4 linked regions of the Homo sapiens genome follow. The protein of the gene in region 1 interacts with the protein of each later gene in a pairwise test. Each region holds a gene or a part of one and is shown on either strand. Other genes may lie near its edges. The genes, in order: DLG2, PLEKHA2, KDELR1 and SERPINB13.

Evidence for each region.
Region 2: the proteins of DLG2 (region 1) and PLEKHA2 interact in binary tests that used the Homo sapiens proteins (3 or more experiments, as listed by UniProt).
Region 3: the proteins of DLG2 (region 1) and KDELR1 interact in binary tests that used the Homo sapiens proteins (3 or more experiments, as listed by UniProt).
Region 4: the proteins of DLG2 (region 1) and SERPINB13 interact in binary tests that used the Homo sapiens proteins (3 or more experiments, as listed by UniProt).

The regions. Positions count from the first base shown.
Region 1 is NC_000011.10:83,468,325-83,475,348, forward strand, and holds part of DLG2 (disks large homolog 2), read right to left. Parts: intron 4,454-7,024; coding exon 4,403-4,453; intron 3,404-4,402; coding exon 3,302-3,403; intron 1,050-3,301; coding exon 877-1,049; intron 1-876. UniProt on the Homo sapiens protein: Required for perception of chronic pain through NMDA receptor signaling. Regulates surface expression of NMDA receptors in dorsal horn neurons of the spinal cord.
Region 2 is NC_000008.11:38,904,337-38,911,360, forward strand, and holds part of PLEKHA2 (pleckstrin homology domain-containing family A member 2), read left to right. Parts: intron 1-7,024. UniProt on the Homo sapiens protein: Binds specifically to phosphatidylinositol 3,4-diphosphate (PtdIns3,4P2), but not to other phosphoinositides. May recruit other proteins to the plasma membrane.
Region 3 is NC_000019.10:48,388,546-48,396,022, forward strand, and holds the start of KDELR1 (ER lumen protein-retaining receptor 1), read right to left. Parts: upstream 3,007-7,477; 5' UTR 2,814-3,006; coding exon 2,723-2,813; intron 1,980-2,722; coding exon 1,879-1,979; intron 1,167-1,878; coding exon 1,008-1,166; intron 1-1,007. UniProt on the Homo sapiens protein: Receptor for the C-terminal sequence motif K-D-E-L that is present on endoplasmic reticulum resident proteins and that mediates their recycling from the Golgi back to the endoplasmic reticulum.
Region 4 is NC_000018.10:63,583,258-63,590,352, reverse strand, and holds the start of SERPINB13 (serpin B13), read right to left. Parts: upstream 3,011-7,095; 5' UTR 2,903-3,010; intron 1,703-2,902; 5' UTR 1,686-1,702; coding exon 1,521-1,685; intron 698-1,520; coding exon 638-697; coding exon of another isoform or gene 611-637; intron 1-610. UniProt on the Homo sapiens protein: May play a role in the proliferation or differentiation of keratinocytes.

The sequences.
Region 1 (7,024 bases):
TAACATGTATAAATGCTGGTTGATTATTCACCAGTCAGAACATTTCAAGTTAACAACATGAACAAAGAGGAAAATAGGTGCAATTATCCAGGACAGTTTGACTAGAACCAGTATTCATTTAGTTGATAGAACTGAACTTTTGAGAGGGAGGAAAATAGATGCAACTTCTTAGTGTATTCTTAGATAGACATCAAAATTACTTAATTCTTTAGCGGTACATTGAGAAAGGTCATGGCAAATCAAATCAACCCAACAAATATCTTCTCCTATGATACTGGTTCTCTGTGTTCACAGGAAATAGGATCCCTCTGTAGGCAGATTGTGTAGCCACACCCAGGTGCCTTCCTATGGTACCCTCTCTTGAACATTCTTCTCTTTTCCATGCCCCTGAAGTTACCAGCAAAAAGATAATAGCAGCATCTACACCTCCTCTAAGCTAGAACTTCTGCGAGCAAAAGGCTGGGCAGCCCTTCTCATCTATCTTCTCTTCTACCATGAGGATGTCAAGTTTTCAGAGAGAGAGAAAAAAAATAACTTCCTCTAACAAAATAATTCAGGAATGCTATCCCCTTGGTTTACAACTAAAGTAGTAAACCTGCCTTAATAAAATCAAGGTTGTGTATTGGGGCCTCAGATAGTGAGTCAAAGACAAAGCCCTCTTCCTACTTTTTCCAAGTCAGTGAGAATACTTTATTGAAATTAGAACAAAGATTAATGACATTGCTCTAAGGTGATTCTCTGCTTGGATGTTTTAAATTATTAAATCAAAATTTACAATTGCAATCAAGAAAGAGTAATGACCAAAAAAAAAAAAAAATGCAGTTTGCAACCTAGAAACCTTCTTCAGGGGAGGTGTAAGAAGATTGGTGAACATACTCTTTCTGCTACAAATCTCACAGACTGCACACTGGTTCCATATAAATTGTCATTGTACTGGCCGGCTTCTATAAACTTGTGCTCTTGGATATCTTTCTCCATTTGTTCTCTGGAAATGACAAAGTGATAGTCTCTGCCATCCACCTCGTAGTCTCGCTTTGGCCTCGTAGTATCTTTATAAAACAAAAAATGATAAAATTAAGGTGCATTTATACCCATAAACTTGCTTTACACCTATATTCTCCACCACATCCTCAACATTGATATGTAGAAATATGTAGTATGAAGAAATATGACATAGTAACAGGTACTAGTCTTACCCTCCCACCATAAGCAACTAAAAAACTGGACAAAATATATGAAACAACTGTTTTCAGATATCAGACAACAGGAAGTACAGGGCTGTAATCTTTGAGAAAAGAGAAACATATGAGAGAGCATTCACCCCACCTCTCTACCTAGAGGCCATTTCCAAATGGAGAGTTTAGACATCACATGGTGCTAGAAGACACGGGAGTTGAGTCAGAACCCATGGAGATCCCAGAAAGGCCACATTTTAAAAGGTTACTCTAGACTTACTCTACACCCATCTTCACAAAGTCTAAAACCATGTCACAAATGGAAGAAGCTGCTGTGTCAGTAAATTATCACCTGTCAGAACAAAAACTTAACATTCTATAAAGGACCATAAAATTCAGACTCTCAACATATATAAAATAAGATAATCACAGTTAGATAGGACTAAAAATCAGCAACTCTAACCATTTCACCTAAATTTTTTGGTAAGAAGAGAAGGGGAAAGCAATCTAGCAATATGAATAAAAGCTGTTAAAATATTTTTAATCTTTGACTCACTTATTTTTTCCTAGAAATATGTTTTTAAAAATGATCAAAACTTCAGATACAGATTTATCCTTAAAGATATTCATTATATTATTTTATAAGTAATAATTATAACACAATTACGATGATATTTTTGTCACAATTCATAATAGTGAAAAATAGGGAAAAACCAAAATGTTCATAAAGAATGATTAATTGGGATATAATAATCATTTGAAATAGTTATATAAAATTTTAAATAAGCAAAAAAATCATCACAGAGAAAAAATGCATGCATAGAAAGAATAGATGGAAATGTACAAAAATATTAACAATGATGTTATCTCTGGGTATTGTGTGGGATTTTGTATACTTCTAATTTTCTCGTTTAACTTTCTTTTTAGTGTTTTTGAAGTTTTGTACAATGAACATCTATTGACTATCACAAAATGGTTCTATTAATTCAAAAAAGAGAGAATATGCAAGGTGAAAGGGAAAGCAGAAAGAATGCTTAAGTACCTTCTGTTTTCTTTCTCTCAAAAGTGGAGGAGCAAGCTGGAAGCTTGCTGTAAACGACCTGGAGTTTCATTTGCTCCTTCCTGTCTGAAGACTTTCTCAGGATATGTTCTATGGCAGGATCTCTTCCCAGAGCCCTTGCTGGGAATTGTTTCATGAGATACAGCAATCATCCTAGTCTTTTGGCCATGTACTGGACACATACAATTCCTGCTATTCTTAAGTATCTCATGTAAAATTTGCAGTACTGGAATGTTAGAGACACTTGAAAGCATCAGGCTTAAAACACATAGAATGGAAGAGAAATATTTGTTGGTATCAGATGTAAGAGCTCCATTATCTAATAAATTAAAATTTCCTGATGGACCTGTCTACATACGTAGAAGGTCTGCATGCATTTCTGTTTGACAGAGTCGGGGTGTAGACGGGGTGAATGAGTGGAGAAAGTATGGTAGGGGTGGGGAGGGGAAGAGGCAGAGCAGTTAGAATCTAATAAGGCTACAATCAGAGGGACCAGAAGCCTGATGATAATCTATAATGAGAAGAAAGTAGTTTAAAGTCTGTAATGGCCTAGAGGTCAAATTGAAGTGTTACACATTTTCTTGTCTTCACCCTCCCTAAACCTGGGACTGTCAACATGGGAAAGCCTATTGGGTTTTGGGATTGACATATGGCCCTAAGTCATCCTGAGAGGATTTTAATATATGGCTTTGTTTCCGATCTCTTCCATCCTATAAAAAATAATGTTTCAGTGGCATTTTGATCAATCTATGAAAACATACTGATGCCTATCATAAATCCTATGCTGTTTTAAATGGTTGGGGGCCACAAAAATTCATCCTGCCTTTTAAGGGGCTACAATCAGTTTAGAGAAAACATTATTATTTTTATTAAATACAGAATGACACACGGCAGCATAAATGAAAAGTGTTAGGCAAATAAATTAAATAAGGCACTCAGCTAATCGGAAATGGTTGGTATTTGAATTACTGGAGAGACTACTGGAGGATGGAATTACATTTTACCATCTCATAAAGAAATCCAAGCTCTTTTTGTTTTTCCTAGAGGAAAGAAAAATGACACTTACGAGGCACACAGGAGCCAAATTTATCAGGGAATTCAGATATCAAGTCGTCATTGATCCGATCCTTCATGGGCCCCAGGATAATCACCGGCCGGGTGTAGTTTACTGCAGAATGGGAAAGGAAGATGTAGGTAAAGAGAAAGAGTTGGAAACAACTGCAAAACTGTCCTGCAAGGGTGATTCTTAATTGCCAGACAGTAAGAGATGCTAAGGGCATTACTTCACTGGATAAATTACTCATACAGCCTTGCATAGGGAAATTGATGTTTAACACTCAGGAGATTGGCAGTGCCTACTTTCTGGAATCTACTAGCAGGGAAAGGCAATTGCAGTATCTGTTGATGAAAAGAAACATTTGGAGGAGTTTTGCTTACTCTCTGGCTCTGCCTACATAATGTCAAAACAACTGAATTTAGTCAACTGAGTGGGAGAAAAAAGAATCCAAACCAGCTGTTTGGCTATTGTTTAGATATGACTATAAAAAGTAATTGTTAGTAGTAATAACATCTTATGTTTTCATGATTTCTTTTCCCCAGATCAAAATACTCTCTATACTTTGCTACAGTTTCTAGATTTCCTTGTATCTGGGATTAGAAGGAACCTGAGAGTTCATTGGGTACAAGTCCCCATCTGATGCTTGAATTCTCTCTGCAGTATCCTTGTCAGTAGCAATTAGCCTCTGTATAAATGCCTCCAGGAAAAAGCAGCAGCTTACAGATAGCCTACATCTTAGGCAGATCTGCTAGAAAGTCATTCTCAATACTGAGCTGACATCAGTCTCTCAGGAGAATTTATTCACCAGTCTCGTAGCTAGTGCTCTTTAGGTAATTTGAATGTGTTCCTTCCCATTGAGGACCACTCATCTGGAGGGCTGCATCCTTCTCTTAGGTGCTATTAGTGCCCATACTCAGCAGGAAGTTGTCTGTTTGGTGATAGGGTCAAAGAGAGAGAAAGTGAGAGACAGCGTAAGAGTAAGGTACGGTCTCAAGACAACAGAGCATTAAGCCGAGTTTATTCTCCTTAGTCCTTCACTCTTTCCCTCCTTCAATGATGTCACCTCTTATGGCCCAGAAATTAGGAATGAAAGCGTGCTGGGAAACTTACTTTCCTGCCTTGTAACAGGCTCATAGGAAAGAATGAGGTCTTCTTGTCCTCCTGAGAAGAGAAGGAAAGAAAACCACAGTGAACTAACAGTCATATATTACAGAGACAAGCCCTGCTCTGAAACACAGGAAACAGACACAGCTCAGAGTTAATTCTCCTTGCTCTTTCTCCTTGAACCATTCAAAAATAACTTCATCCTCATAAAACTCTTTAGCACCATTTTAGTATCAGATTTTCACAGTCATAACTCTAAGTAATAACTGGTTGCTAGCTATTTGCTGCAGGGCAATGACCTGTGAGACTTCTTTCTGTCTGGCATTGAGAATGGAATGCCATGGCCTCTACACCAAGCATTACTACTTAAAAGGAAGCCATTTAGTTCAAGGAAAGGGTCCAATTCAATAGATGGCTGCTACATAATCAGAATTGCTGTACCTTTTATTTCATCTTCTATTTTATTTCCCCAAGAAGCACACTGTTCAAAAGCAAGTATATGCTTATTTCATTTATGATATAAAAACTTCATCAGGACACTCAGGGTTTTACTCTAATATTAATTCGTCAGGAAAATGCTGTGGGTCAATTAATGAAGATCAAAAATTGAGGTGTGTCCTACATCATTGGTTATAATTGCTGCTAAACTGTGCGTTGAAACTTCAGATAGAGAACTAAGGAAGACACAGTAGTAAAATGTCAGCCCCTCCAATGTCATCTGCTACAAGCCTTCTGACTCAGGGTGGACCTCAAGTCAACAAATAACCATAGAAAGTAAATTGGTTTTTGCCATTTATTTTTTCAATCATCTATTTTATATAATTGATGAATTAATTGGTCAGAGGATTAGCTCAATTTCACCTGCAAACCCGGAAGTGTCTGCATTTTTTTTTGCATTGACTAACCTTTGGAACAGCAATAGGTTAGGGCTGTTGAAAAGAACTTTCTGTCTACTAGAAGAAATAGTGGAGCAGAAGTGGAATATGAGGTAACTTCTGAAACCAAAGGGCAATTCACCTTTGCTGTATATCCTCACCACCCACCCCTGAAGCACATTCATAGTCTATCAATGCCAGGTTTTCCTCCTTCAACAGCCACAGCACCACAGAAAGAGAGGTAATTTCATAAGAAGAGTTAATATGATCGACTGTTTTGATAATGAGACTGATTTGGGGAAATTGAGCAATATGTGGGTATAGCTGCGAAGTTGGATGACTTCCTTGGAGGCTGGGTAGCTGGAATGGGATGGGGATAGGAGTGTCTTACTTTTTCAAGTGTGAGAAATGGCCTCAGGCTGAAGTCATATCTTATCTCAGTCCCAAGGAGGGCCTGGGCTCAGAATGGCGCCACCATGCCAAGCTACTTCTTAAGGGTACAGAGAGTGGACCTTGATGCTCCTCCTAAGTGGTATGTACCCATGGCCACCCCAGAAGTGTTCAGGGGACTCTGCCACATTGGTCAGGGGTTTGGTCAGTGAGGAGTCAGATTCACTATTTCTTGTACTCAGGAAAAGAATGATTCCCTTTGAATAAACTACTGAAATGTACAGAGCCTAGGCCAAAAAACATGAAGGTGATTGATTACTAACCCCCAGTTATCTAAAGCCTGAGCGATGTAGAGGGTATACGCATTCAAGGTTTTAGTTTAGTATTACTTCATCAGGAAAATGCTGTGGGTCAATTAAAGAAGTGTAAAAATTCTTGGGGAGAAAGTATAGTTTTAATGATAGAAGCATCGTAGACTAACATTGCAATTTTAGACTATAACTTTACAGGGGAAATCTTCAACAATTAATGTGCAAGGGAAGAATTCTGACCATGGGATAACAAAAGCTTTAAATGTCAGGTAACTCTTGGACCTCCTTATTAGGCTGGGAGTTTCATAAAGGCGAGAACTGAGTTTTATTCATCACCATGTCTCCAGTGCCCCATTGAGTGCTTAACATAAAGAAAGATGTCAACAAATTTGCATTCTGATTTCAGTCATGGGAAACAGGATGAGTGATGAGGCCAACGGTAGGTTCTATTTTGTGTTTCTGTCAATATGGTCATTTAACTTTGGAAAGCATCGTTTTCTCTAAATAAATAGAGCACATCAAGTTCCCATAAAAATCTCTTCCCAATGGCTTTGCAAATCATTCTGATGGAACGTTCTAAAGGCAAATCTTTAATAAGATATTTGATGTCAGTGTGTATGATTGCGATTCAGACAACTAGGGCAAAGCATAGCTTTGATTAATTTTGTTCAAGAGTTCTCTATCTCTGTCTATCCATCACTTCTTGGTTTACTTTTCTATGAAAGGCACTGGTTCTGGTTCTGGTTCAGAGCAGTAGTGTTGGTAGACAGCAATGGCAGCATCCCTTATGTCCGGGCCACCCCAATTCTCAAGACCTTGTGGCAATCAGGTACTGTGTAATACCCAGGAAGCCTGTGGGGAAACCCGTGGAGGTGGGCATGACATAATTGCTGTGAATTCAGCATCTTAAACTAATTTTTACTTCCATGTCCAAGAATGAAAAGCCCTATGGGTAATGAGGAAGAGACAAAGGGAAAGAGAAAAAGCCACTGTGATGAAGGAGAGAAAATTCATGTCTTTGTGGCACTTTGCGGGCCTTGAGGGGCTTTCAT
Region 2 (7,024 bases), on another chromosome or scaffold:
TGGGGGCTTTGGCCCTGTGGTGTGCCTTTTGCCCACAGTGCCTGGTCAGCTGAGATGAAGAGGATGGGAAGCTGGGTCCTCTTGTCCTTATGCTCTTGAGAAGCACTGCAGTTAAAGTGCGAAGGCTGGGACTCAAATTTGGCTGGCCCCTTGCAAAGCAGCTCTCTGCTGGTATGATTGCCCATGGCTGGATCAAGAGGCAGCTTGCCTTGGAAACTGACGAGCATGTCTAGGTTTCTGTTAACTCTCAGGGTAGCCTGGCCAAGAAGGAGTCAGCACATTGCCTGGACTTTTTGTTTTAAACCTCCTGGAGAATTTTTAGAGATGTAAAATGTGGTGTTTCTTGGAGTAGAGGGAAGAGTGAGGGAAGCTGATGCCTTTCCTCGTGAGAGGAATCCCAGAGTCGCAGCTTTTTCATTGACATTTGCTCACTGGAGTTAGAGGGATGGAGGTGCGCATGCAGCAGCTGCCTGCCCAGTGTTAAGCAACTTTGCAGTAGTAATGATGACCATGTACTCCTTGTTAGGCACCCACACATGCAGTTTAACAACAACAATATTTACCCAATGTCTGGGTGTCCAGCACTTTTCACACATTATTTCATTTAATCCTCACAGCAGCCTTTGAAGTAGGTAAAGCAATTATCTCCATTTTGCAGATTAGGAAATAGACCCTGAAGACTTAAGCAACTTTTCTGCGTTTGAATCCAGGTCTGTCTGGCTCAAGACTCATGCTCTTTCCCTTCACTCCACTGCATGGATGGGATGGGTAACTGAAATCAGCACACCCTTTTGAATGGTCATCTTCTTGCAAAAGTTCCCTCAAAAATACTCATATTGGCTGGATGCCGTGGCTCATCTCTGTAATCCCAGGGCTTTGGGAGGCTGAGGTGGGGGGGATCACTTGAGGCTAAGAGTTTAAGACCAGCCTGGGGAACATAGCGAGACCCCATCTCTACAAAAAATTGAAAAATTAGCTAGCTGTAGTAGTGTGCGCCTGTAGTCCCAGCTACTCGGGAGGCTATAGCAGGAGGATTTTTTGAACTCAGGAGTTTGAGGTTATAGTGAGCTGTGATCGCACCACTGCACTCCAGCCTGGGCACCAGAGCGAGACCCTGCCTCTAAAAAAAAAAAATTTTTTTTAAATACTCATACTGATTATTGTCACCTGCACATCCTCCTTACCACACCCAGCCCCTCCTCCTTCCCTAAATCAAGAGACAGAAGCACATGTCTTTAGAGGAACAGAGCTAGGCCATTTACGCTCCCCCCTCACCACTCCCCTGCCCCACCCCCAGCACTTAGCAAAAGGCCAGTAGGTTGGAGAAATTATGTTTTTTGTGTTTTTGCTTTTTTTTTTTTTTTTTGAGACAGAGTCTCGCCCTGTCGCCCATGCTGGAGTGCAGTGGCGCTATCTCGGCTCACTGCAACCTCCACCTCACAGGTTCAAGCAATTTTCCTGCTTCAGCCTCCCAAGTAGCTGGGTCTACAGGCGCATGCCACCACGCCCAGCTAATTTTTTGTATTTTTAGCAGAGACAGGGTTTCACTGTGTTAGCCAGGATGGTCTCCATCTCCTGACCTCGTGATCCACCCACCTTGGACTCCCAAAGTGCTGGGATTTCAGGCGTGAGCCACTGTGCCCGGCCAGGAGAAATGGTGTTTTCTTTTCATTCTCTTAACTGCCCATGTATTAGTACCCTTTGGTTGACATCGTCCATTATAAAATGAAGATTAGAGTTCCAGGACTCGCAGCTGTTGTTAGGAAGCCCAATAGTGAAACCGAATTCATTGTGGGGAAACTTTCACAATTCTGAAAGTTGGAGATCTCAGCTTTTATAGGCTGTAAAGCCAGTATGGCTGCGTGCCTGCACTGGTGCCCTCTCTGGTGGAGATGGTCTGATGAGCCTTCAGCCCCGGGCAGGCTTTTGTTTCCTGCAGGCTCCAACAACCACATTTTCTTTGAATGTAGATGAGGCTGCTGTGAAGAGAGGTCATGAGTGTCTGAAATATTTTGTTGTTTTTGGCATCTTTATTGCAGTGGTATCAATTTCCAGTTACTCCTGCCTTACACCCCTCCCCCCATATTTTTTCAAAAATTCCTTCTTGAGTATCTCTTGCTCTCTACTCCAAGTTCTAGGGTCCAGTGGGGATTGGGCTATCTCAGGGTCAAGCCAGCACCCTGTCTGATCCGCCCCCCGCCATTCCTGTACATGTTTGCATTCCTCACCCTGCACTTCCTCTGGGAACTTGTTCTCAGTACGTTCCCTTCTCTCGCACTTTATTCTCCCGCCTTACACTATTTGGAATCTGCTATCATGACAGTTTCAAAATGCGGCCATGTTAGAGCAGTAGGAAGTGGAGGCTTCCACACTTCCTAAGTTATAATCTTTGACCCATTCTCAGGGATGTGTTCTCAAATAGCCATGCTTGCATTTTGCTGTTGTTTTTACTGGGTTTGTACATTGCGAAGGCTCTGGTTGGCTTCACAATATATCTTGATGTATGCTGCAAATCTGAACATATATGAACTCTGTTGACATGGTCCGTATGTATTCTAGCAACAGGTGAGTGACTGCTCCATATCTCTATACCTCAGTTCCTGTCTGCTGTATTTCATACAGTCCTCTTTGAGATCTCTGATGTTATTTCCCAAAAAACTTTCTCCTGTTACCCAGTTGAGCCATTTCTGGTTGGTAGAACCTCAGTCACTACTGAAGCTGCTGCCTGCAGCTTCTGCCCTGGTAGGGGTAACAGGACAGAAGATGTACGTACCACACGCCCCACTCCTTGTCAAAAAGCACCTTTTGAATATTTTCTGGAGCAAAATCCCAGAAATTCCTTGTCCTGCTAACACAGAATGTGAAAGAAACATCTCTAAATTTTAAAAATGAGTAATTTTTTTCTCATTTTTGAACTGAGGTTGTAGTAATTTTGTACTTCAGCCAATACCACTGAAGGCTTTATCTCTGTTATCACTTTCTCTTATTATTTATCTCAAAAATGCTAAAGTAGTCAGGCAGAGTCTCCCATATTTCCCTCTATTCTTTCCTCTGTCTCCAAATTATGTTAGCCATCTTCAAAATCAAGAGGGCTATTCAGAAAACCACAGCTCTCATTACTTAATACCTTTATAGCTTTTCTTTAAAATAAATCTATCTGGCTGGGCACAGTGGCTCATGCCTATAATCCCAGCACTTTGGGAGGCTGAGGCCAGAGGATCACTTGAGCCTAGGAGTTTGAGACCAGCCTGGGCAACCTACAAAAAATACAAAAATTAGCTGGGTATGGTGGTGCACGCCTGTAGTCCCAGCCACTCAGGAGGCTGAGGTGGGAGGATCGCATGAGCCCAGGAGGTGGAGGCTGCATTGAGCCATCATTGTGCCACTGTACTCCAGACTGGGAGACAGAGTGAGACCATATCTCAAAAAAAAAAAAAAATTAATCTATTCATCTTTTCACTCATCCAGCCAGCCACTTATTTTATGTATGTATGTATGTATGTATGTATGTATGTATGTATGTATGTATTTTTGAGACAGGGTTTCACTCCTGTCACCCAGGCTGGAGTGCAATGGTGTGAGACATTGGCTCAACTGCAACCTCCACCTCCTGGGCTCAAGAGATTCTCCTGCCCTAGCCTCCCCAATAGTTGTGACTATAGGTGCACACCACCTCACCTGACACTTATTTTAAAATGTCAGTCCTATCTCCCAAGTTTCAAGAAGGAAAACTCCACTGGGCGTTCCTGTCAGGGTCCCCATTTCCTTTTCCCAGAGCACTTTTCAAGGTACAGCTCATGTGTTGTAGGAATAGAGGAATAGCAGCATCGACTTGGGACTGAGTATTCTGTTGGCCCGAGGACCTGGGTGCTTCTTAAGACCAGAGAGCAAGGGACCACACCAGCAGGAGAAAGAGGGAAAGGCGCTCAGAGGATGTTGCCATACGAAGTAAGAAACCCAAACAGCTTGGAGGGTGCTAAAGCCCTCTGGGCAGGTAGATATCTGGCTCTTGGATGATTGTGAGATGTGAAACATTTATTTATTAGGTTTAGGTCTTTAAAACACCAAAAAGTTCCAAGAGAGCTATAATTTAGGGAAGGCCTTGTTTGTTTGTGGACTCTGGAGAATTGAGAAATTTATTATCAGATTCAAAACTTATACACTTGGGTGGGAATCTGTGTGGAATTAAATAGCTTTCTCTCCTGCTAAATAAAGTAACACATGCTCCCTGTAGAAGATTTGGAAAAATATGTACAAGTAAATGAAATTCCACTCATAGCCCGTAGATAATAACTTACTGTTTTGGTGACTATATATCTGGTTTTAAAACAGACCGTATATAGGAATATAAGAATAATATTTGGATGATTGAGATCATATTATGTACCATTTCATATCTTTTAAAAAACTTATGATGTGGTGAGTTTTCCCCTCATTCATTAAAAATAACCTGAAAACAGAGTTTTTGAATTATTGTGTAATATTTCCTTGTGAGTATGTCCTGTTGTTTATTTAATTATTTTCTGGGCCAGGCGCGGTGGCTCACGCCTGTAATCCCAGCACTTTGGGAGTCCAAGGTGGGTGGATCATGATGTCAGGAGATCGAGACCATCCTGGCCAACATGGTGAAACCCCATCTCTACTAAAAATACAAAAATCAGCTGGGCGTGGTGGTGCACGCCTGTAGTCCCAGCTACTCAGGAGGCTGAGGCAGGAGAATAGCTTGAACCTGGGAGGCGGAGGTTGCAGTGAGCCGAGATGGCGCCACTGCACTCCAACCTGGGCGACAGAGCGAGACTCTGTCTCAAAAAAAAAAAAAAGAATTATTTTCTAACCATTGTGTTGTTCAGGACATTACCAGTTGTTTGTTACTATAAATTCTATTGCAGTTGCCATCTTTTTACTTTAATCTTTCTTTGCATCTTTGTTGATTGACTTGGATGGAATCCTAGAAGTAGAATCACTGGGTCAAAGGGTATGAACATTTTTTGCTTTCTTGTTATATATATACAACTAAATTGCTTTCCAGAAAGGTTCATAGTCCTGTCCTGGGTGTATAAGAATCCTAGGAACATTTTTCAAGTAGACAACATCTGTTTTAAGCAGTGATCTTTCCCTTTCAGCCCCTCTATGCCTCTGTGTCCCATCTGGGCTATGTGCTATTTTCTCAGGGTCTGGGTCCCAGCTGTCTCTTGTATATTATGAGCCTTGCAAAGTTATCCATTGCCTCAGTTCCTCGGGGCAATTTTTTTCTTGGCTTGAATCTCCACTGGTGGAACCTAAGGCATGGGAATGGGCAGTAGAGAGATATTTGGGGCTGCAATACCTCCCAGTGCCCCCCATTTCATTCTCTGGCAGGCAGCCATTGACTTCCTTCTCATGAGCTGCTTCTAGTCAACTGGCAGGTGTCGGCCAGGAATCTCTCAGTTTAATTGCCATTTAACACACTTTCTGCCACTGATTAATGGGTGACTCCATGCAAACTCACTTTCTTTCCCCAAGTTTCACTTGTATCATAAATACTTATTTTCATTCGCAGTACATACTTAAGAACTTATATTCTACTTAGAAATCTGGATCATATAAAACTTCCCACTTTTTGTTTTTCTTTTCATTAAAATACTTTTTTTTTTTTTTTGAGATGGAGTCTCACTCTGTCACCCAGGCTGGAGTGCCATGGTGTGATCTCGGCTCACTGCAGCCTCCACTTCCAGGGCTCAAGTGATCCTCCTACCTCAGCCTCCTGAGTAGCTGGGACCACAGGCATGCACTACCATGCCCGGCTAATTTTTGTATTTTTGGTACAGATGAGGTTTTGCCATGTTGCCCAGGCTGGTCTCAAACTCTTGGGCTCAAGTGATCAGCCCGCCTTGGCCTCCCGAAGTGCTGGGATTACAGGCATGAGCCACCATGCCTAGCCTGAAATACAGTTTTTAGTTACTGGAATAATATGAGGCTACGTCTTGGTTTGGTTTGGTGTTTGTTTGTGAGAGACAGAGAAGAGAGGGAGAGAGAGAATGAAGGAGAGAGGGAGAGAAGGACAGGGAGGGAGACAGAAAGAGAGGAATTCTGTATGCACATACTTTTGATTTGCTTTTAATGAAGTTCAGGAAAGTAGATGAAATAGGAAACAAACATTTAAAAAACATTCAACCTCACTAGATGTCATTATGTATTTGAAACCACCAATAGTTTAAAATAATGAGAACATTCAATATATGTAAGATTATAGTGATGATAACAATATATTGCTGGTTGCAACATAGATAACATCTTTTTAGAAAACAATTTTGTAAAAGGACTCAAGAATTATGAAAGATCATAGCCTGTGATCTCATATTATTACTTGGAATTTATGCTCTTTCCATGTAAAAGAAGAAATAAAGCATGAAAATACAAATTTTAGCCTTATGTATAACAGTGAAAAATTGGATATAACCTTCAATTTAATTGTAGAGAAATGGTTATGTAAATTATAGTAAAACCAGTCCATTAATGTTATGCAACCATTAGAAACGATTATAAAGACTATGTAGCAACATGGAAAATGCTTATGACATCATCTTAAGTTTTAAAAAGGCCAATTATGTGGATAGGGACATGAAAAAGCATGCAAATGTGAAAATTGTTGGCTGGAGTGATTGTTAAAATAATTCCAGCATTGTTATATTATGATTTTTGCACTAAACCCAGAAAACACGAGGGAGGTTTGGCTAGGGAAGATAGGGTGCTGAGTGGGTTGGATAGAGGCCCCTTCTCTTACAAATACCCTGTGTGCTTTGTTAGCTGTGTGTTGTGAAGGCCAGGAAGCTACTTGCCAGATAGTTTCATTACGGTATGAGAGCAAAGGTGAAGGGACCATCTAGAGACAGGGGTATCTAGAGCTCTAACCCAGCATGAACACTTTCTTTTTTTTTTGAGAGGGAGTCTCACTCTGTCACCCAGGCTGGGGTGCAGTGGCATGATCTCGGCTCACTGCAACCTCCGCCTCCCAGGTTCAAGCAATTCTCCTGTCTTAGTCTCC
Region 3 (7,477 bases), on another chromosome or scaffold:
CTTGGTGGTGGGCATCTGCAATCTCAGCTACTCGGGAGGCTGAGGCAGGAGAATCGCTTGAACCTGGGAGGTGGAGGTTGCAGTGAGCCAGAATCATGCCACTGCCTCCAGTCTGGGCAACCGAGCGAGACTTTGTCGAAAGAGAAAGGAAAAAAGAAAGAAAGGAAGAAAAGGAAGAAAAGGAAGAAAGGAAGAAAGGAAGGAAAGAAGAAAGAAAGGAAAGAAAGGAAGAAAGAAAGAAAGGAAAGAAAGAGAAAGAAAGGAAGGAAGGAAGGAGGAAAGGAAGAAAGGAAGGAGGAAAGGAAGAAGGAAAGGAAGAAAGAAAGGAAGGAAGGAAGAAAGAAAGGAAGGAAGAAAGGAAGAAAGGAAAGAAAGAAAGAAAGAAGGAAAGAAAGAAAGAAAAAAGAAACTAGCAGATTTGGAATTCAAATTCAAGAAGGCTGGGCCAGGAATGGTGGCTCACGCCTGTAATCCCAGCACTTTGGGAGGCCAAGACAGGCAGATTATTTGAGCCCAGGAGTTCAAGACCAGCCTGGTCAACATGTGAAACCCTGTCTGGACTAAAAATACAAAAATTAGCAGAGCATGGTGATGTGCACCTGTCTTCCCAACTACTCGGGAGGCTGAGGTAGGATAATTGCTTGAACCTGGGAGGCGGGGGTTGCAGTGAGCCGAGATCATGCCACTGCACTCCAGTCTGGGCAACAGAGCGAGACTTTGTCTCCAGAAAAAAAAGAATCCCTAAGCCTCAGTTTCCTCATCTGTAAAGTGGGGCTGCTGAGAAAAGTAAGTAGGTGAAATGCTTAGGGTAGTGACTGACACATAGCGAGTCTTGCTGCTGTTGTGTTAATTTCCTCTGACCCCAGAGCCCATGCACTGAACTTATGCATCCTAAAATAAGGCAGTTTGGGCACACCCTGCAGAAGGAAGCCTGTGAGAGGGTCTCCTGTCATAGCTACTCTGCCACAACCATCCCCCCAAATAAGGAGTCACAGCAAGGCGCCTACCTCCAGAGGGGTGAAGTCATGATTGACCAGGAACGCCAGAATGGCTGTGGGAACGACCAGGAACTCCACTCTGAACGTGTCATGGTTCCCATCGTAAGTAGCTTTGAACTTGCTATAAATCAACCAGACCGTGGTGAAGGAGCAGGCTATGTAGACCACCTGAGGAGGGGGATGATGAGAAGGGGCCTCAACTCACAGGCCTGTGCCCCAGTAGGCTCAGAGCCCGGAGTCCAGGCCCCTCCCTCAGACGCAGGAGTCCAGACCCCCAACCCCTCCTCCCTCAGACCCAGGAGTCCAAGCCCCCAGCCCCTCCTCCCTCAGACCCAGGAGTCCAGGCCCCCAACCCCTCCTCCCTCAGATCCAGGAGTCCAAGCCCCCAGCCCCTCCTCCCTCAGACCCAGGAGTCCAGGCCCCCAACCCCTCCTCCCTCAGACCCTGGAGTCCAGGCCCCCAGCCCCTCCTCCCTCAGACCCAGGAGTCCAGGGCCCCATTCCCTCCTCCCTCAGATCCAGGAGTCCAGGCCCAGCCCCTCCTCCCTCAGACCCAAGAGTCCAGGCCCAGCCCCTCCTCCCTCAGACCCAGGAGTCCAGGCCCCAGTCCCTTCCTCCCTCAGACCCAAAAGTCCAGGCCCCCGGCCCCTCCTCCCTCAGACCCAGGAGTCCAGACCCCCAACCCCTCCTCCCTCAGACCCAGGAGTCCAGGCCTCAGTCCCTTCTTCCCTCAGACCCAAGAGTCCAGGCCCCCGGCCCCTCCTCCCTCAGACCCAGGAGTCCAGGCCCCCAGCCCCTCCTCCCTCAGACCTAGGAGTCTGGGACCCACACCCGGCTCCTCTGCCTCAGTGGGGGCCAGAGAGGTGGGGTGGAGCCTCTACCTTCATACACGTGTTGTAGAGTGAGATGTAGTTGGTGAAGAGGTCCAGATATCGGGCAGTGAACACCACAGCAAACAGGACCTGGCTCTTCCCTGAAATTCCTGTGGTCCAGAGACAGAGAAAGAGAGAGAGAGAGAGACAGAGAGAGAGAGAGAGACAGACAGACAGACAGACAGACAGAAGGAGAGAGGAAGCTGGGGGTGGGCTGCATGGGCAATAAACTAAGGCAGGGCGCCCGGGACCAGCCTGGAGGCAGCTCTGGAGTGCAGCTGTCCCCGGAGGCCTCCCCAGCCCGCCCCGCCTGAGCAGGGCCCTTTCCCACGGACCACAGCCAGGGGGCAGCCCAGGCCCCCGAAGCTACTCCAGCCCGAGGCTCCGTCCCAGACTAGGCCTCATGGCTACCCCTGGCCCCTCAGGGTCCTCCCGCAGTCTGGACCTGAGGTGAGGCCTAGGGAGGACCTTCCCTGACCTCAGGCCCCGGATCCGGTCACCTCCCTCCCGTTCCCTTCCTGGCCGCCACGGTCCACGTCACCAACTCACAGCCACCTCCCCGCCTGCCATGGTTCCCTGTTCCCGGTCCATGAACCCTCGGGCTGCCCAGATTGGGGCTGGGGGTGGCTGAATTGGGGGCCTAAAGCCATTCACATGAAACTGTATGCACCCCCGCCAGTCTGGGGAAGGGAGCTGATCCCCTGGAGACCCAGAACCTAGAAGAGAGATCCCCAGCAAGCAGTGGGGGTGGAACCTGTGCCCCTAGTGCCCCCAAACCCTTCCTGAGTCCTGCGACGTCCCCCAACCCCCGCCCGCAATCTCTCTCCTTCGCCAGCCCTGGTGGGCCTCTCACCGGCGCACGAGCGGGACTTCCAGATTTTGAGCAGTAGCAAGATGATGGCGAGGAGGTGGGAGAGGTCTCCCAGGAATCGGAAGAGATTCATGGCTGGGGAACCCTGGCAGGGCTGAGCGGGAGGGAGGCAGGCTGGCGGGGGGGTGCCCCCCGAGGCTGCTGGTCTGAACGGGTAGCTGGGCTGGGGGGACGGAAGAGGGACCCTAGGTGCGCTCCGCTCCGGGGAGGGGACTTTGGGAGGGGGAGCAAAGGCTGGAGCTGGCGGCGGAGCTGGAGCCGGGAAGAGGGAGGAGAGCGAGAGGGGGAGGAGTCCGGGAGGAGAGGCTCCGCCCCCGAGGGCGGGGCCTGGATCCCCGGCGCCCCCTATCGCCCACCTCCTGCTTTGCCGTGGCGGCGCTAAACGCACCCCCAAAGCTGCCCCATAGGAACTTGGGAGGGTCGCAGGGTTCGGAAAGTGCCAAATCCAGCACCGGTTCGCCCAGGCAGTCTGTGTCTCTGGAAGAGACGCAGTCCAGTACACCAGCCTCAGCCCTTGCAGGGATGTAGAGACTGCCCTCTGAGCTTGAAAAATCCTGCAGGGACCCGGAGGCTCAGCTGCTAGCTTTTGCAGCTTTCAGGCACTCTAACTCCAATCCCCCAGAAGACAAGAAAGATACCCCACCTACTTCCTCCCCTAGACCCAGGACTCAAGGCCCCAGCCCGTTCGTCAAACCCAGAAGTCTGGGTCCCCAGCCCCTCCTCCCTCAGACCCAGGAGTCCAGACCCCCAGCCTCTCCTCCCTCAGACCCAGAAGTCCAGACCCCCAGCCCCTCCTCCCTCAGATCCAGGAGTCCAGGCCCAGCTCCTCCTCGCTCAGACCCAGGAGTCCAGGCCCCCAGCCTCCTCCCTCAGACCCAGGAGTCCAGGCCCCCAGCCTCCTCCCTCAGACCCAGGACTCCAGGCCCCCAGACCCTCCTCCCCCAGATCCAGGAGTCCAGGCCCCCAGCCCTTCCTCCCTCAGACCCAGGAGTCCAGACCCCCAGCACCTCCTCCCTCAGACCCAGGAGTCCAGATCCCCAGCCCCTCCTCCCTCAGACCCAGGGGTCCAGGGCCCCAGCCCCTCCTCCCTCAGACCCAGGGGTCCAGGGCCCCAGCCCCTCCTCCCTCAGACCCAGGGGTCCAGGGCCCCAGCCCCTCCTCCCTCAGACCCAGGAGTTCAGGGCCCCAGCCCTTTTCCCTCCTAGGACGCTGTTCCTTGGAACTTAGGGTCCCACCCCCACCATCTTATGGATCAAACATCCTAACCTTAAGAATCTAGATCTACAGTTTCTCCCTTTACGACCCACAGATTTAGGCCCTGATTCTCTTCTTTTTCAGGAATGTGCACCTCACCCTGTTCTCCCAGACCTTGAGGATGAAGGAAACAGGAGCCTCACCCAGGAGGCTCAAGGCCAAAACTCTGACCCAAACTACCTCAGGAGCCCCTGGCCCTGGCTTCCCCCCTGCTCCAGAGTTTCTGCCCTGCCCACACACACACACCCTCTTCCACCCTCAGAGGCCCCGGTGTCCTGCCCCACGCTCTACCCCAGAGCCCCACGGGTGGCTTTATAAAAGTGCCGGGCCCAGCCCTCTAGCAGGAGGGGAATGCTGGGCATCTGGGTGTGGGACCCCCGGGGAACAGCCTGTGGTCTGGACTCCTGCATCTATGAGGGGACAGACGTGGCTTCCCTTCCGGATGATGGGGTACCCACAGATGATGGAGGCCAGGGTCCCTCAATAAAAGAAGGGGTGCAGGCGTGTTGATTTCTTCAGAGGGCTGGAAGGACGGGGTGCCCAAGGGTGACATCCACGAGTCTTGGGTCCCTGAGGGTGGCTTGTACGGGGGAGAGTCGGGATGACTGAGTCCTTAAAAGAGACTCCGACTTGGAGGCGGTCCCCAAATTCCTGGGTCCCAGTAGAGAAGGGGACTCCTGGGTCTGAGGGAGGAGGGGCTGGGGGGTGGGACTCCTGGGACCAGGGTCGAGACCTGGTTTTCAGGCCTGGCCTTCTGGGGCAATAAAAGCCACAGCTTGGGTCTTAGTGTGGCGAACACTGAAGTCAGGGAAAGGCCTCCTGTTTCCAGAGCCTCAAGGCAGGGCGGGGGCAGAGGGCAGCAACCCCCAGCCCTGGAGTCTAGCTCTGAAGCTGGTGTCTCCATACCGGGTTCTGAGTCCCTGCCTGCCTGTCCCCAGCCTGACTTCTTCCTCCCTTTTTATTTTCAGCCCCTCACTCCCTTGTCCCAGGAGGAAGGCAGAGGCTGGTAGCTAGGGGTGGGGGGCGGCCCCCTCCCCAAGCCTGGCAGGAGAAGGGGTCCCCAGGGAGGCCAGGAGGGGGGGCTGTGGGTCTCCCGGCAGTGGCAGACGGGGACTGAATGTTAATCGCATCCCGAGTGAGTGTGTGTGTGCGAGAACACAGCGAGTGTGTGAGTCCCTCCCGCTCCAGCTCCTCCAAGCCGCGGCCGCCGCCGCCACCCTCGCCCGCAGCCTCCCGCAGCCTCCCTCGGCCACCGGTGCCTGCTGGGGGTGTTGCCTGGGTAGGTCGGCCCGGCCCCCAGGGGTCTCTCGAGCGTCTGCCATCTGCCCGGTGAGGATCTGTGTGTCCGGGTGTCTGGGGCTGGCTGGTGGAGGGGGGGTGTGTCTGTAAGCGCTGCGGCGGCGGAGGGAGGGAGGGGTCTGTCTGTCTGTACCGACCCTGAGCTGCCTGCCTGGGTGTCGTGGGGCTCCCGCTCCTTCCCCCCGGCCCCCCCAAACCCAGATGGATGGTGTGTACCTGGGTTCTGTGCCTCCTGCCTGCGTCCGGCCAGGCGTCTGGGCGTCCCCGGCTGCCTGTGTCCTCCTGTCTGTCCAAACAGCCCCTATCAGCAGTGGCAGCCTGGCCCCCATTAGACCCCCCACTCTGTGTGTGTGTGTCTGTGTGTGTGTCCCTCCTCAAGCTCTGGGGGTGTTGAGGGGGAATCCCAGGGAAGTGAGATCGTGCGTGTGTGCGTGAGTGTATGTGTGTTTCTGCCTGTGTTTGAGAGTGGGGGAGTCAAGGGGGGGTCTAGAGGTGGCCAAGCGAGGAAGGGGCAAGCAGTTCCCCAAGCAGGCAATCTCCCGCTCCTCACACGCACACACCAGCCACTAGCTTCAGAGGTGACCCAGACAGACAGATAGACACAGACGCTGGAAGGGGGGGTGGGGGGGCTGAGGGCACAAAGCGGGGGTGCGAGTGAGCCAGGGAGAGGCGGGACTGGACACATGGAAAGGGGGGAGGAGCCGGGGCTGAAGCGGCAGAGGGGGGCACCCCGGGTGGGCGGAGGGGGGATCCCCACGGGGTCGGGGCGGCAAGAGGACACCCCGACAGCCTCTGCAATGTCCGGGGCCCAACTTCCAGAGCAACATGTGTAGCCACGTCCTCGCCTAGTCCAGGTGGCCGCAACCTTGGGGGAGAGACAGGGCAGGACAGGACCAAGGAAGAGGAAGGAGAGACGGAGCCAGGGACAGACAGGAGGTCCGGGCTGCCGCTGCTGCCGCCACCACCACTGCCGCCGCCCCGGGGCCTGCCCCCCGACATCGGCTCTCTGAGCCCTCCTCGGAATCTTGGGGTCGCTGGACGCCGGGTTCCGGTCCTGGCCCCCCCGCCATCCCCCCAACAGAACAGGGTCATGAAAAGGTAAGGCGGGGACAGGGGATGCAGGGATGGTGGTGGGAATGTGGACCCCCAAATCTAGGACAGAGGAAGTTGGCAAGAAGCCTCGTGGAGGGAGGGGGTTTGAACGGTGGGCAGGGGTCTTGACCCCCACCTAGCTCCCCTGTCCCTCAGGGACTCTCCTCCACCCTCTCTCTCTCCCTCTCTGAGCCCCTTTTTCCTGAGTCCCTACACCTCAGACCTTTCACGCCCCCATTTCTCTGACACTTGGCTCCCTCTCCCCATCCCCACATACCTGATGCCCCATATCCCTGTGCCTCCATCTCTCTATCTCACCTTCTCCCTGTACCCCCCTCCCTGCATCAGTCCCCCCATCGCGAGCCGGTCCTCTCCCTCTCTCCTCTCGCTCTCCCCTCCCATGTCAGAGCTATGAGTCTGCTATTAATACCCCCGCCAAGGACCTTGAGGGCATCCAGGCCCCCAGCACCCCTCGCCCCAAGCTCCCACCCCTTCCTCAAGGTTCTGGAACACCCTTCCAGCCTCTTCCAAGCATCAGGATTCGGGTGGGGAGAGACCGATGTTGTGTGTGTGTGTTGGGAGGTGAGGGGGGAGGAAACGGGATGCCGTCTGCAGCACAACTCGAGGTTGTGGGGGGAGCTGTTGATCGAAGTGGCCGCTCCTCTCTTCTCTGTTGGATGCTGTGGGGGGCAATGAAGACAGGGACACCCTAGGAATTTCTGGCACCCTCCTCCTCCTCCCCGCTTGGGGACAGGCTGTGCTATGTACAGGATCTAAGTGGGGTGACTAGGGAGGCCAGAGCTCGGTGGGGGGGCACCCAGGATGTTGGGAAGGATAGGGTTTGAAACCAAAAGGGGATCCTTAAGGGAGGACAGGAGCCGGAACCCGGACTCCTGGGTCCTTGGGGGAAGAGGGGAGCTGGGGACCTGGACTCTTGGTTCCTGCAGGGAGAGGAGGCTGGGCACTGGAGTTCCAGAGTCTTGGGGCAGGAGGGGCCTGGCCTCCTGGGTCCTGGGAAAGAACAGGACCGAATGCCCAGACTCCCAAGGCCTGGGGGAGGAAGGGGCTGCCAGAAGGACTCCTGGGTCTTTA
Region 4 (7,095 bases), on another chromosome or scaffold:
CTGATCCTAGCCCCGACCTAATGGGCTTATTCCTTTCCCATATTTGAGTAGACTCTCCTTTGGATGGCGAATACAGGAACACTGGAGCTGGAAAAGACCTCAGGAAGTCATTGGGCCTGTAATAATTTTTTAAATACAACATCAGCACGGGGTTAAAAATATGAGTGGAGTTTAGCAATAATATCACCTACTGCTACTACCACCACCACCACTGGCTCAGTTGCCAGATGCCCCTACTGCGGACTTTACAGAGGCTGAAAGAAGATAAATAACTTGCCCAAAGTAGCATCGCTCTTAAGTGACTGAGCCAGGACTTGGACCTAAGTCTGTTTAACTCCAAAACCCATCCACTCTGCTATGGGAACTTTTCTGTCTATTAGCCTTTACCAGTTCTATCATAGCGGTATTGTCCATTACACCTAAGGTCTCTTCTCAATATTAAGGGGTTATTATTATTGTATAATCCTTACAACAATATTTGTCTATGGTGATTATTATTGCTTAATAGTAAAGCAACAATATTGCTTTCATGCCTTTCTCAGTCCTTTTCCCCAGAGACCCCACACCTAAAATGCAACTCTACTGAAGTTTGTAAAACACATCTCCCCACCTCTTTTCCTTCAGCCTTTATTCTTACCACCTCTTTTTCTTCAGCCTTTATTCTTGAGCTCTTCGTCTCTTTTTCAGAGTGAAACACCTGGAAGAGATAGAAAATATTACTGTGGTGCTCAGAGAAGAGAAAACCTCACACAGAATCAGTCAGGGGAGAGTGGACGCTTCTGAAAGAAACCTCGGTGGTATATGAGGTGACATTATCTCCTTGCAAAATCAGAAAAAGGTCTGCGTTTACCTCTGATTTTTCGTGTGTGTGTGTGTGTGTGTGTGTGTGTGTGTGTGTGTGATGGAGTTTTGCTCTTTTGGCCAGGTTGGAGTGAAGTGGCATGATCTTGGCTCACTGAAACCTCTGTTCCTGGATTCAAGCGATTCTTCTGCCTCAGCCTTCCGAGTAGCTGGGATTATAAGCACCTGCCACCACACCCAGCTAAGCTCATGCCTGTAATCCCAGCACTTTGGGAGGCCAAGGCGTGTGGATCACCTGAGGTCAGGAGTTCAAGACTAGCCTGGCCAACATGGTGAATCCCCTTCTTTACTAAAAATACCTCTAATTTTTTTCTAAGGAACTCGTATTGGCTTATGTGTTCCTGTGTTCATCTTGGATGTGTCATTTTTACCCTTGTGGGGATTATGTCACTTTTTCCATAAGTACTTGGACAAGGTTACGCAACCAGTCTCTACTCAAAAAAATTTCAAGCATCTGGGAGCAGGTGGCGAGATGGTATTTGGAAAAGGAAGAGGGCTTTCCTGATAGACCTGAAATTGCTCCTTGTCTTGAAAGTCTCTGTTTCCTGGTCCACAGGTCAAGAAGAGCGTATTTTTAAGATAATGCAAGAGGGCTGACAACCCCCCCGCCAAATGAATTTGTGCATAGGAAACAAGGAAGCCCCCTGACTGCGCCCAACCTCCTCCAACTGGGAAGCGGTGGCTCCTCGGGTCCCCAGGAGGACCATGCCAATTGCAGTCAAGATGCCCACAGGGGAAAAGAAGATGTTGCCATCATTTGTTTTCTTCAGCTCTTTGAAAAGATCAAACCCAAGTCGAGTGCTGACGGCGCCAAGTGAATCCATGATGATTTTAGCGAGACCTAGAATAGCAAGAACAACAATCAAAACTGAACATTTGAATTACTCTGTGTCAGGGGAATCCTTTCTGCTTCTATTCCTCTTCTTGCATCGATCCGGAATACAGGGATTTCCACCCTTTTGGTGAAAGGTCGCTGCTGCCTGCTTCTCACGTCCTCTCTTGGCCTTCTCTTGCTGGGAGACATCCATCAATCTACTGGAGTCTTCCGTCATCCGGTGGTGCTCAGTTCTTATTTCCCCGCGGAGCAGGGTTAATGTTTTAATGGCTTTATTCTCTTGCTCTCTGTCTGACCCTGCCTGTCTCTGCCTCTCCACAGCCTCCTCTTCATGGAAGCTTCCCCAGGTAGACCCAGCCCTTGTCCAGGCGACACCAGTTTGTCCAGATGTGGGGCCCATGATAAGGCAGGGGGGTAGGCACAAGAATCTCCACGGGCCTCAAGTTCAAACAGTGCTCTCAGATCCAACCTTAGCAATAATTAAGCCGAGACTTGAATCCTTATCTGATACTATTTCTCAATTGATTCAAAATTCAGCCCAGAGAGTGACAGGATTGATTAAATCTCTTAAACCCCTTTCCCTAACTGCATACAAACTTGACTCTGGGCTGAATTTTTCTGAAGCAGAAACCACATATCTCTGGTCATGAATTATTAGGTGGAGATGAAAGGGTTTTCTTTTTTATACTTTTCTGTATTGTTTTAGGCTTGTACATGAGCTTGCATTACTTTTGTCATTTCACAAAAATAGTTTTTAAAGAGCAATTAATATTTGCCAAAAATAAATAGGTAGAACTGTTTTTATGTTTGCTTCATTACCAACTACTTTAAAACTAGTAAGTAAAGGCTTTAGGAGGAATCCTAAAACAAGAATAAGATTAATGAAAAATAAAGTTTTTTAAAGCCCACATACTTTGGGGCCTTTTGCCCTCAAGGGCTCATCCCCGCTAAGGCATCCCACATCTGATATCAAAGCTTTCATTTCAACCTCAGGTTTCCTTGCAGAGATCCTTTACAGGTTAACTCAGAAATAAAATGGATTAATTTACTGTCAAAGAAGATACATTGTCATGGCCATGTTGGAACTGAATTAAATAAAACTACCTCCAGAAAGTCTATGCAAAATAAAAGTAATTCTTTCAAACAACAAACATCATTGTTCTCAAAATACAGAGGTCTTAAATTGGAGCCAAAATAAGAACTTACCTCGGGTTTTTGGAGAGACGGTGGTGGCTGGGCAACGAACTAGGAAGCATAAGTCAATTAAGTAGCTGGGATCCTTAATTTATAGTTCTCCACATCTGCTTCAGCAGTGGTTTTCCACCTTGCGTGCACCTTAAAATCTCCTTGGAACTTTAAAAAAAATCTATGCCCAAGCCCCACCCCAGACCAACTGAGTCAGCATCTCTCGAGTGGAAACCAGGCATCAGAATTTTTATCACCGCAGGTGATTACAATGTACAGCCAACGCTGGGAACCAAAGGTGTATAGCCTGATGAACACATACATTAAATGCATACTTTACTTACCACAGATGGACAGAGCTGTGTCCTGACAAGTCATTCTCTGTAACAGAGTTATTTTTGCATTTGCATTATTTAGGAGTGCCAAATGCCAGGAAGAAAATGAAAGAAAACTATCTTGCTACAAAGGAACAAGAAAAAAGAACAAGAAAAGTTTGGGTAGGCAGCCACACACAAGCGAGCATGCGCACACACACACACGCACACACACATACACACACACACCTATTATTCTCAAGTATTCCATCCATTAATTGTAAAATATCTCATTTTAATTCATTCAATAAACATTTATCAAGTCTATTATGTACCAGGTACTGTGTCTAATGCCAATAATTCATAAGCACTCAATATCCTCACTGATTTCAGGAAAACAACACTACCAAAAAAACTCAATAGGAAATTACACCCCCAGATTCCAGTTTTTCCTGCCAACCCTGGAGCATTTCTACTGGCCCTACCAGTTCATTAAAAGAAACTGTGCTTGGATTAGTCTTAGCTTTAATCTTCAGTAAAGGGCGTGGAGATTTGCCATCGTTGCTGGGCAGCAGCTCCTAGAAGGGTGTCTTAGCTCTTCCTTCTGCCTAGAGGAACACCTCCCTAGATACGCAGGCTCGAAGGGCATATGGGTCATGTGTGTTCCAATCTCCATACTCACAATTTACTTTTTTCAAAATATTTTGATTGCTGCTCTTTAAGCAAACTCAAAGCCACATTTAGTTGATTTGCTTTTTAATAGGCACTGAGAATCTTGCAAATTGAGTAAGGTTTAGAAAGAATTAACACTTAGTGAACCCTGGATGCCAGTGAAATGGAAATGTTAGTTTTTTAAAATGGCATAAAATCTCTGAGTCGGCCATAATGCTTTATGTTTTAATATCCCTATCCATTTATATCTTCTTATTTCTTTCTCTGTGGCCCCTAGACTTCCTGTTCTATTGCCCAGCCATTTCCACAGGCCTTCTGCTTTTTGCTAAAGCTTTTGCTCTACCACCTGCTTTCACCGGGAAACCTGGCATGTCCTGAGGACTACTACATCCCATAGTCTTTTCTGGGAACGGCCACTCATATCTTGGGAAAGCAAAGTCACCATTCCTATTCTCCCTCGCACTCCCTCTTCTTCCAAGTCTTTCTTCCTTCAGTCACCTTCAATGCTCCCCTTTGGAAACTTAGACCATCACGCTGTGCTGCTCTGTCCCCAACCACAGGTCCCTCCGTGACTCTGCATATGGTCTTCCTGTCCACCCCAGCTGCTACCGCCACCCTGTACCACTTCACCATTCCTGTTGCCAGCGCCTCTCACTTCTCGGACCTTCACCTTCCCTCTTTTATAGTGGCCCACTCACACCAGGAACTGCTCTTGTTTAACACTCAAGCACCTCCATCTGGTGACAGATTCTCATCCTTATTCTCTCTAAACCTAATTTTCAACGCCTTCCCAACCTCTTATCACAGGACTCCTCCCTGTTCTGTTTTATCCATCTCTTCTTTCTAGGATCAAAACTGCCCCAGAGGTGGAATATATGTTGATGATTAAGAACCATTTAAAAAATGATTTCTATGCTAACAAGTGAGGAGAAGAAAGTTATCCCCTGAAGCAGAGTATTGATAGGTTCCCAACCCTGTTCCATAGCTCATAGTTTTGTTCCAACTTCTGTGTGTCTGTTACTGATACTGACTTGTAATATTTTTCTTCTCCAAGCATGTAATCTCGTAGTGGATGCTGCCGATGTTCCCACCAGATTTCCTTAACCTACCAGCATGCCTGTTACCCAGTTGTTGTTTTCCCTTATAATTCACAGATGCCCTTTTCTCGGCTAAAAGAGAGCTGCCTACGGGGGAAGCCAGGTACCACTCCATCCCCCGTGCCAGGGCACACCTCAGGCATGACTCACTGGCATAAGGGCATAAAAAGACAGCCCCTGGCTGGGCGCGGTGGCTCACGTTTGTAATCCCAGCACTTAAGGAGGCAAGGCGGGTGGATCACCTAAGGTCAAGAGTTCAAGACCAGCCTGACCAACATGGTGAAACCCTGTCTCTACTGAAAATACAAAAATTAGCCGGGCGTGGTGGCACATGTCTGTAATCCCAGTTACTCAGGAGGGTGGGGCAAGAGAATCGCTGGAACCCAGGAGGTGGGGTTTGGAGTGAGCTGAGATCACGCCATTGCACTCCAGCCTGGGCAGCAAGAGCGAAACTCCACCTCAAAAAAAAAAAAAAAAGAAAAAGAAAAAAAAAGACAGCTGCCTGAGTAAGACTAACTTTATAGTGCCACTTCTCCTCCAGACCTCCCCCACAAGATTAGACTGAAGCCAGTCTTTAGCAGAAACCACATGATTAACATTTCCCCTTGCCTTGTTCTGCTTCTTTCAAACAAGCATGCTCCCCATCACGCTTTTCCCAAAAATTACCTGAAAAATCCCTGTCTTTAGCTCTGCTTCTAGGGTGCCTCACCTATGACAAAAGTGTTGTGATATCTAGCCCAAGCCCTCATTATTTTTGCTTTCCAAAAATTTATTTGCAACCTTGCATATATTCTCTTTAGATAAAATTTTTAATTAGTTTATCAAGACCTATGAAAAACACTTTTGGGGTTTAGATCGGGACTCTTTAGAATTAATATGTTAAATGGGAAAATTTTTCATCTTTACATAATGAGCAAGCGGTATGATCATCTTACATGTCCTTCAATAGTTAATAGAAAGAAATCACGGGGAGAGAGACAAAGGAGAGAGAGAACCAGTTTTCTCTTTGTGATGAAAAACAAAACAAGCATGTTCACCGCCGCTGCTTCCACTCAAAATTGAACCAGAGACCCTGACAAGTGCAATAAAGCAATTAATTAACTGATGAATTAGATAATTATTTAAAAGGTAAGATAATTTAAAAAGAAAAATAGAATCATTCACAGAGGAATTGAGGTAAATGTTATGAGAATTAAAAAGTGAGTTTAGCAAGATTGCTGACTACAAGGTCAATATAAAAACTCAAGTGTTTTTAATATACTAGCAACACACAGTTAGAAACATTTTTAATATATTATTTAAAAGAGTATAAAAAAGCTATGTGAGGCTGGGCATGGTGGCTCATACCTGTAATCCAGCACTTTGGGAGGCCGAGGCTGGCAGATCAGCTGGGTTCAGGAGTTAGAGACCAGTCTGGCCAACATAGCAAAACCCCGTCTCTACTGAAAATACAAAAATTAGCTGGACGTGATGGCATGCACCTGTAATCCCAGCTACTCGGGAGGCTGAGGCAGGAGAATTGCATGAACCAAAGAAGTGGAGGTTGCAGTGAGCCGAGATAGCACCACTGCACTCCAGCCAGGGCGACAGAGCCAGACTCCATCTCAAAAATAATAATAATAATAAGGTATGTGAGGTAATACTATGTTAATTAGCTAGATTTGGTCATTATGCAATGTTCTATACTTCAAAACACCTTGTATGTGATAAATACATATAATTTTATGTCAATTGTTTTAAGATAATGAAAAAAGCATCACGTAACTAGTAAATATGAAAGATGTTTAAGACTCCATATAGAAAAAGATTAAACATAATTTAGAGAAATTAAGAAGACTGAGTAAATAGAGGGGTATATTTTATTTGTGATTTAAAAGACTCAATATTGTAAGGATGTCAATTTTCTCAAAATTAATCACTGCAATCTCAATCAAAATCTCAGGAAGCTCATTTTTTCAAAAAATTGGCCAGCTGATTCCAAATTTATATGAAATAGCCAAGGGCTAACAACAGCCATGACACTGTTGAAAGAGAAGGAGGAAGAGATAATACCTGCTCTGTCAGATAGCAAGGTTTATTATTAATTGTCAGAATGGTTTTTGGCAAAGGATAGATCAGAACAGAAGCCCAG